Linked DNA regions of Homo sapiens. The protein of the gene in region 1 purifies or fractionates together with the protein of each later gene. This does not show direct contact. Each region holds a gene or a part of one and is shown in the gene's direction. Other genes may lie near its edges. The genes, in order: ANKRD18A and TTC33.

Evidence for each region.
Region 2: the proteins of ANKRD18A (region 1) and TTC33 purify together in Homo sapiens (affinity purification with mass spectrometry; one large-scale study listed by BioGRID and IntAct). This does not show direct contact.

Annotation. Positions count from the first base shown.
Region 1 is NC_000009.12:38,592,799-38,596,624, reverse strand, and holds part of ANKRD18A (ankyrin repeat domain-containing protein 18A), read left to right. Parts: intron 1-221; coding exon 222-1,139; intron 1,140-2,715; coding exon 2,716-2,865; intron 2,866-3,826.
Region 2 is NC_000005.10:40,745,652-40,749,477, reverse strand, and holds part of TTC33 (tetratricopeptide repeat protein 33), read left to right. Parts: intron 1-2,458; 5' UTR 2,459-2,459; coding exon 2,460-2,680; exon of another isoform or gene 2,681-3,826.

The DNA of each region.
Region 1 (3,826 bases):
TGTGTATTTTATGGATTCATTGACTTCAAATACATTTTTGAACTTTTTGAAATGTATGTTCTCTAAGGTTCAAGGTTTTGCTTCAACTTTTTCTCCAGTTGGATATCCACTTACAGCAACTTTTAATTGCATGAATGTATAGATTGCTCTTTCACTTCAGAAATAACCATCATAGATTATTTTATTGAGTGCTAACTAAAAATTTGTTTTGTTTTATTTAGGATTCTCAAAGTTACGGAAAAAAGAAGGATGCGATGTATGGAAATTTTATGTTGAAGAAAGACATTGCCATGCTCAAAGAGGAATTATATGCAATAAAAAATGACAGTCTCAGAAAGGAAAAGAAATATATTCAGGAAATTAAAAGCATTACAGAAATAAATGCTAACTTTGAAAAGAGTGTAAGACTCAATGAAAAAATGATAACAAAAACAGTGGCCCGGTATTCGCAACAGCTTAATGATCTGAAAGCTGAGAATGCAAGGCTGAATTCAGAATTGGAGAAGGAAAAACACAACAAAGAAAGACTAGAAGCTGAAGTTGAATCCCTCCATTCTAGCCTGGCCACTGCTATAAATGAGTACAATGAAATTGTGGAAAGAAAAGACCTAGAACTAGTTTTATGGAGAGCAGATGATGTTTCTAGACATGAAAAAATGGGTTCTAATATTTCTCAACTAACAGATAAGAATGAGTTGCTTACTGAACAGGTCCATAAAGCTCGGGTGAAGTTCAATACCTTAAAAGGTAAGCTCCGTGAGACAAGAGATGCTCTCAGGGAAAAGACATTGGCTTTAGGAAGTGTACAGCTGGACCTAAGGCAAGCACAGCATCGAATAAAGGAAATGAAGCAGATGCATCCAAATGGAGAAGCTAAAGAAAGTCAATCCATTGGAAAGCAGAACTCTTTAGAGGAGAGAATACGTCAACAAGAACTTGAAAATCTCTTGCTTGAACGACAACTAGAGGATGCTCGTAAGGAAGGCGATAATAAAGAGATAGTCATTAATATCCACAGAGACTGTCTTGAGAATGGAAAGGAAGATCTTCTAGAAGAAAGAAATAAGGAATTAATGAAAGAATATAATTATTTAAAAGAAAAACTGCTTCAGTGTGAAAAAGAAAAAGCAGAAAGAGAAGTAAGTATGAAGAAAACTATAAACTTCTGGAAAGAAAATTTAAATATTTCATTCTGGCTATATGTTGAACCTAGTTCAATATACAAATAAATAGATGAAAATGTGTTTACCATTCTGTATAATTCCATTTACATGAATCATCCAGGAAATACATCTATAGGGACAGAAAGATGATTAATGTTTGTGTAGGCCTGGGGCTGGAAGCGGGTCGTGACTGCTAATGGGCATTAGGGATTGTCCTGGAGTGATGAAAATGTTCTAAAGTTGGATTGTAGAGATGGTTGCACGACACAGTAAATTTACTAAAAATCTTTGAACTGTTTGTTAAAAAAGATAAATTCTATAAATCATATTTCAACAAAGCTGTTTGAATAAAAATCATATTTCAACAAAGCTGTTTTAGTAAACCAAAAAAGTGTTTACTATATCAGCTTGGAAACATGCTTTGTTTCCAGGAGATAAAAGGTAGAGCTGACAAGATGCTTTCCTTTGAGTAAAGACATTATGTCACCTATGAAATGTTAGTAGATGCAGAGCAATGCTGATAAGGTGTGTAGTCTTAGACTACTGAAATAAGAAATGTAACGTCTTCATGTTGCCGCATTTTAAGAGCATAATGAAGCAGGTAAGTGGAAATGCTTGTACCTGAAATGTGTATTTTGAAAATCAGATTCAATTAAGTGAGCTGCTTTGACACTTAATTCTAGATTTTCCAGATGAACTGAAGTGTGTTGCTGTGTCTTGTGATGCTTTTCCTTCAGTGGCTCTCTCTTATATGTATTTTAGTTGGTGTAACTTTGTTTTGATTCATGCCAATGTGACTTAAGTCTGAAAATATGTCAGTCTCACATTATGTATTTTTCTGACCACTTAGTATTTTAAAGACTTCTACTTGTTATAAAATCACAATTTGGAATAAATGTGGTAAATTTTAGCAAAAAAATATTTGATGTAATGTTTCCACTGGCAGGTATTTATAATTTACTGTGAATATTTTTATGAGTAATTAGCTCATAATTTACATTTTAAGTCTCAATGACTATCATTTGGATATAATTCTTTCCAGTACAAAGATACTTTTAGCTGTCTGTGATTTATGAGTTTGACATTGAATCCCCATTTTCAGACTAATGAGGGGTGGCAGAGTTCACAGAGAGTGGGATTGAAGTTTGTACGGGACAGAGTTGTAGGAGCTGAGGTCAGGGAGGGAGGTAGAGGCCATGTTACCTAGGGCCTTGAAGGCCGTTGGAATTTTATTCTGAGGTAGGAATCCGTTGGAAGGATTTCAACAGGCGACTGAATATGTGAGGAACTCAGGTTGAGTTGAGGGTCTAAGGTGAGTGAATAGCGGGCTGGATCAATCTGTCATGTAAGAGAATACCAATTTGGCAGGAATATAACACCTTCTATGTCCCTCACTGAATTCAGTAATAAAGAAGAAAGTGTACATATGAGGAAAAGAAAGTGAATCTGTGTGTGTGGTAATAATTTTCAAAGTATGTATGCTAGACTTAAATATTAACATAATTTAATAATAAGCCACTTTATAAAATTGGTAACAAAAATATTTTGTCAGGTGATTGTGAGAGAATTTCAAGAAGAACTGGTCGATCACCTTAAAACATTTTCAATATCAGAGTCTCCACTGGAAGGTACATCACATTGTCATATTAATTTGAATGAGACATGGACTTCAAAGAAGAAATTATTTCAAGTAGAAATTCAAGTATGTATGGAATTTAACATGTAGACAGTTAATCTGTAGCTGGTTGAATAATATAAAGTGTCTTAGGATACTAATTTCAGTGGACAGCTTGATTTTATATTTTATTATAATTGATCATTACCATTTTATTATCTTTATAACGTACTTCTTCAACTCTGGCTCTTGTTCTGCCATTTTGAAATAATAGTTGCATATGTTTTCTCTTATAATATCTACACTTGGGAAAGTTGAGAATAATACATCATTCCTCACAGAAAATTGACTTTTTTCCCGTTAAACAGTATTTTTAGATAATTTCCTTAATGCCTTGGTGAGGCAAGCCAGATTAAGTCAGAAGAGAATGTTTAATGGAATATTCCAGCAAGTTGTCTTATTTCTTCACTTTTGTGAATGGACACAGCAGCTGTGCGTATTCATTTCATGGATTCTAGGTTAACTTGTACAGAAAGGCCATCATACTGTTCTTTGAAATGCACATGTTTTAGGTTAATTTACAAACTACTTGAAAAGTTAGGCATTGCCTTCATCTTCCTTTCATTTAAAATATACTGTAATGGCGTAGAAATACTCAGATCTAATAGAGTATGTACATCCAAAATGGAGAGCTCAGAAAATTATCTGGATCCTACCATGGGATTTTAAAAACAGTTTCACTGAGAGATAATTCACATGTCAGACAGTTCAACCATTTAAAATGTACAACTCAGTGTCTGTTAGTATATTCACAGTGCTGTGTGGTCATCAGCATAATCAATGGTAGAACATTTTCACCACTCTGAAAAGCAACCCTACATCTCTTAGCCATGACTGCAACCCCACTCCATGTCTCTCCACCTACCCCAGTTGTAGGCAACCACCATCCACTTTTGTCTCCACAGATTTGCATGGTCTGCATATTTAAATACATAGAGTCATACAATATGAAGTCCTTTCTGACTGGCTCTTTCACTTAGCAGAATGT
Region 2 (3,826 bases), on another chromosome or scaffold:
TCTTTATGTTTTTTGGTTCATTGCTTTTTTTCTCTGTTTCTCTAGTTGATCATTTGATCAAAATCTCCTTGTGGTTATAGACTCCTTTAAGAATGGAATGAAAGCTTAAACACTATTCTCCAAAATGTACACAGATATAAAGAATTTTGTACAATTTATATACAGTTCCCAGTGTTTCTTAGTATCTTGAAGACCATCTATACAACTAGTAAATTTTTGGATCCCTCAGTTAATCTCTTCTCTAAATAAATATTTGTTGAATTATTTCAGGATTTCTGTTAACTTTGTTTTATCATTTATCCTCTCTTTATTTCTTACATTTGTATATCATTGCAGATTTACTGAAAAGTTCAGCATTTGTTATTTATTTATTTTTTGAGATGGAGTTTTGCTCTGTTGCCCAGGCTCACTGCAACCTCCGCCTCCCGGGTTCAAGCAATTCTCTTGCCTCAGTCTCCTGAGTAGCTGGGATTACAGGCATGTACCACCACGCCTGGCTAATTTTTGTATTTTTAGTAGAGATGGGGTTTGGCCAGGCTGGTCTTAAACTCCTGACCTCAAATGATCCACTGGCCTTGGCCTCCCAAAGTGCTAGGATTACAGACGTGAGCCACCGTGCCCGGCCAGCATCTGTTATTTTAAAATTTACCCAATAATTTTGTGAGTTAAGTCGTTTACCAAGTTTGAATCTTTTAAAACCTTTTTATTATGGAAAATTTTAACACATATGAAAGGAAAAAGTACAATGAACACTATGTACTCATCATTCAACTTCATTAGTTATCAATTAAAAGCAATCTAATTTCATGTATATTTTCTCTTGCATTGCACTCCCAACCTCCACTGATTGCTTTAAAACAATTCCTAGATGTCTTATAATTTTATATGAAATATTTCAGTTTATATTTCTAAAACCTAGGGGTTCCTTTTGTAAGCATAATTACAATACCATTATCACACCAAAGAAAAAATAGCCATAATTTGCCAGGTGCGGTGGCTCACGCCTGTAATCCCAGCAATTTGGGAGGGTGAGGTGGGTGGATCACCTGAGGTCAGGAGTTCAAGACCACCCTCACCAACATAGTGAAACTCCATCTCTACTAAAAATATAAAATTAGAAGGGCATTGTGACGCATGCCTGTAATCCCAGCTGCTCGGGAGGCTGAGGCAGGAGAATTGTTTGAACCTGGGAGGCAGAGGTTGCAATGAGCCGAGGTCGTGCCATTGCACTCCAGCTGGGGAAACGAGCAAAACTCCATCTCAAAAAAACAAAACAAAACAGTGATTTCTTAATATCATCAAATATCAAATCGGTGTTCCCATTCCTCCTATTTCATAAATGTTTCCTTCTGGCTGGGTGCAATGGCTCACGCCTGTTATCTCAGAACTTTGGGAGGCCGAGGTGGGCGGATCTCCTAAGGTCAGGAGTTTGAGACCAGCCTGGCTAACATGGTGAAATCCCGTTTCTACTAAAAATACAAAAAATTACCCAGGCGTGGTGGTGCCTGCCTATAATCCCAGCTACTCGGGAGGCTGAGGCAGGAGAATTGCTTGAACCTGGGAGGCAGAGGTTGCAGTGATCCGAGATCGGGCCGTTGCACTACAGCTTGGGCAACAAGAGCAAAACTTTGTCTCAGAAAAAAAAAAGTTTTCTTCTCATTGGCTTTTTTGAATCAGGAGTGAAACAAGATCCACATGTTATGTTGGTTAGTATGTCTCTTAAGTCTCTCTTAATTTAGGGGTTACCTTGTTCTTTCTCTTCTTTCTTTCCTGGCAGTTTATTTCTTGAAGAAACCAGCTTTATTTTCCTTTAGTTTCTGTTTTTTGCTATCTGCATCTCTGATGTGTTATTGAGCATGCTTCACTTTATCCTGTATTTCTTATAGGTAGAGGCCTGATCTGACTCAGGGTTAATTTTTGTAGGAGTACTTACTTCATGAGTGACATGCTACTTCCATCAGGAGGTGTGTGATGTCCAGTTGTCTTTCTTAGTGATGTTAGTGGCCATTGATGATTATTGCCTACAGCCACTAATTAGGGTTGAAAAATGGTGATAGTCTAATCCTGTTATTTCCTCTTTACCTATGGGTTGGAATACTTCCATAAAAGACCAAGTTTTGGGCCGGGCGTGGTGGCTCATGCTTGTAATCCCAGCACTTTGGGAGACCGAGATGGGCAGATCACCTGAGGTCGGGAGTTTGAGACCAGCCTGACCAACATGGAGAAACCCCGTCTCTAGTAAAAATACAAAAATTAGCCGGTGTGGGTGGTGCATGAGTGTAATCCCAGCTATTCGGGAGGCTGAGGCAGGAGAATCACTTAACCCGGGAGGCGGAGGTTACGGTGAGCCGAGGTCGTGCCATCGTACTCCAGCCTGGGCAACGAGAGTGAGACTCCATCTCAAAAAAAAAAAAAGATCAAGTTAGAATTTTAAAGCTGTTTCTTTGTAATTTTCCAGAATGGCTTCCTTTGGGTGGAAGAGGAAAATTGGTGAGAAGGTCTCAAAGGTCACTTCCCAGCAGTTTGAAGCTGAAGCTGCTGATGAGAAGGATGTAGTTGACAACGATGAAGGGAACTGGCTTCATGCCATTAAACGTAGGAAAGAAATTCTTCTTGAAGGCTGTGCTGAGAAAAGTAAACAGCTGAAGGATGAAGGAGCCAGTTTGGCTGAAAATAAAAGGTATGTATTTAAAGTTTTTTTTTTATGGAGAAGAGCTTACATTTTCTAGCTCACTGTCCGTAATGGGATGAAGAGTTATGAATTTGATAAATTCATGTTTAAAAATCTATTCTAGGTGCTAAATTAATCAAAGAAATAAGGTGTTTCAAAGTCACCTGAAAAATGAAAGTTTGTAAAATAGTTTTCAGGATGCAATGAAAGTTTGTAAAATAGTTTTCAGGATGCTAATTATGTCCCTGCTTTGCCATCATTTTTGTTGTGCCTAAAGAAGAGTAAATGCTAAGTAAAATGTAATTCAAGTGATTGGTCAGTAAAAGGTGGTCTTATCACTGGAAACTTTCTGCTTATAACATTATGTATCAGGTAAATTAGGCATTTCCTGAATAGCTTTGAGGGCACATACATAAAAAAAAATAGGTATTTAGTTATTCTTTGCCATTTACTTCTTATATACTTAAGTAAATATGACTTGCTGTACAGGAAGTTGATAATAGCTTCATTTATTTTTAGCCCTTCTTTAGCTAAGTTGTTCCTATATGCACCCATTTCTTTTTTCTTTTTTCCTTTCCTCTTTTTCTTACTTTTTTATTCCTTTTCTCCTTTTTCTGCTTAGATTTTTAAGAAGGACCAAAAATCATTTTTCATTAGTCAGTGGGGAAAAGACAAATTTTTTAGTAGATTCTGTTGAGAAAACTGGATTACTACCTAGAGGAAAATAAAACTGTGTCTGTATCTAATACCATGCACAAAGATGGACCCTGGAGGGATTAAAAATTTGTGAAAGGTAAAACTATGCAATTAATAGAAGAAAATATAGAATGGTATCTCTAATCTATGGTGGAAAAGGCCTTTTTTATTTTGAAAAAATTTCAAATCTGTATTAAAGAATAGTACAACTGGCTGGGTGCAGTGGCTTATACTAGTAATCCCAGCACTTTGGGAGGCCAAGGTGGGAGGATCGCTTGAGCCCAGGAGTTCGAGGATGCGGTGAGCTATGATCTTGCCACTGCCCTCCACCCTGGGCTACAGAGTGAGACCCTGTCAAATAAATAAACAAATAAATAAATCGTATATCTAGTATGATTCCAGTTCCAGTTTTAAAAAATTCTGGCTGTGTGTGGTGGCTTGTGTCTGTAATTTCTGTGC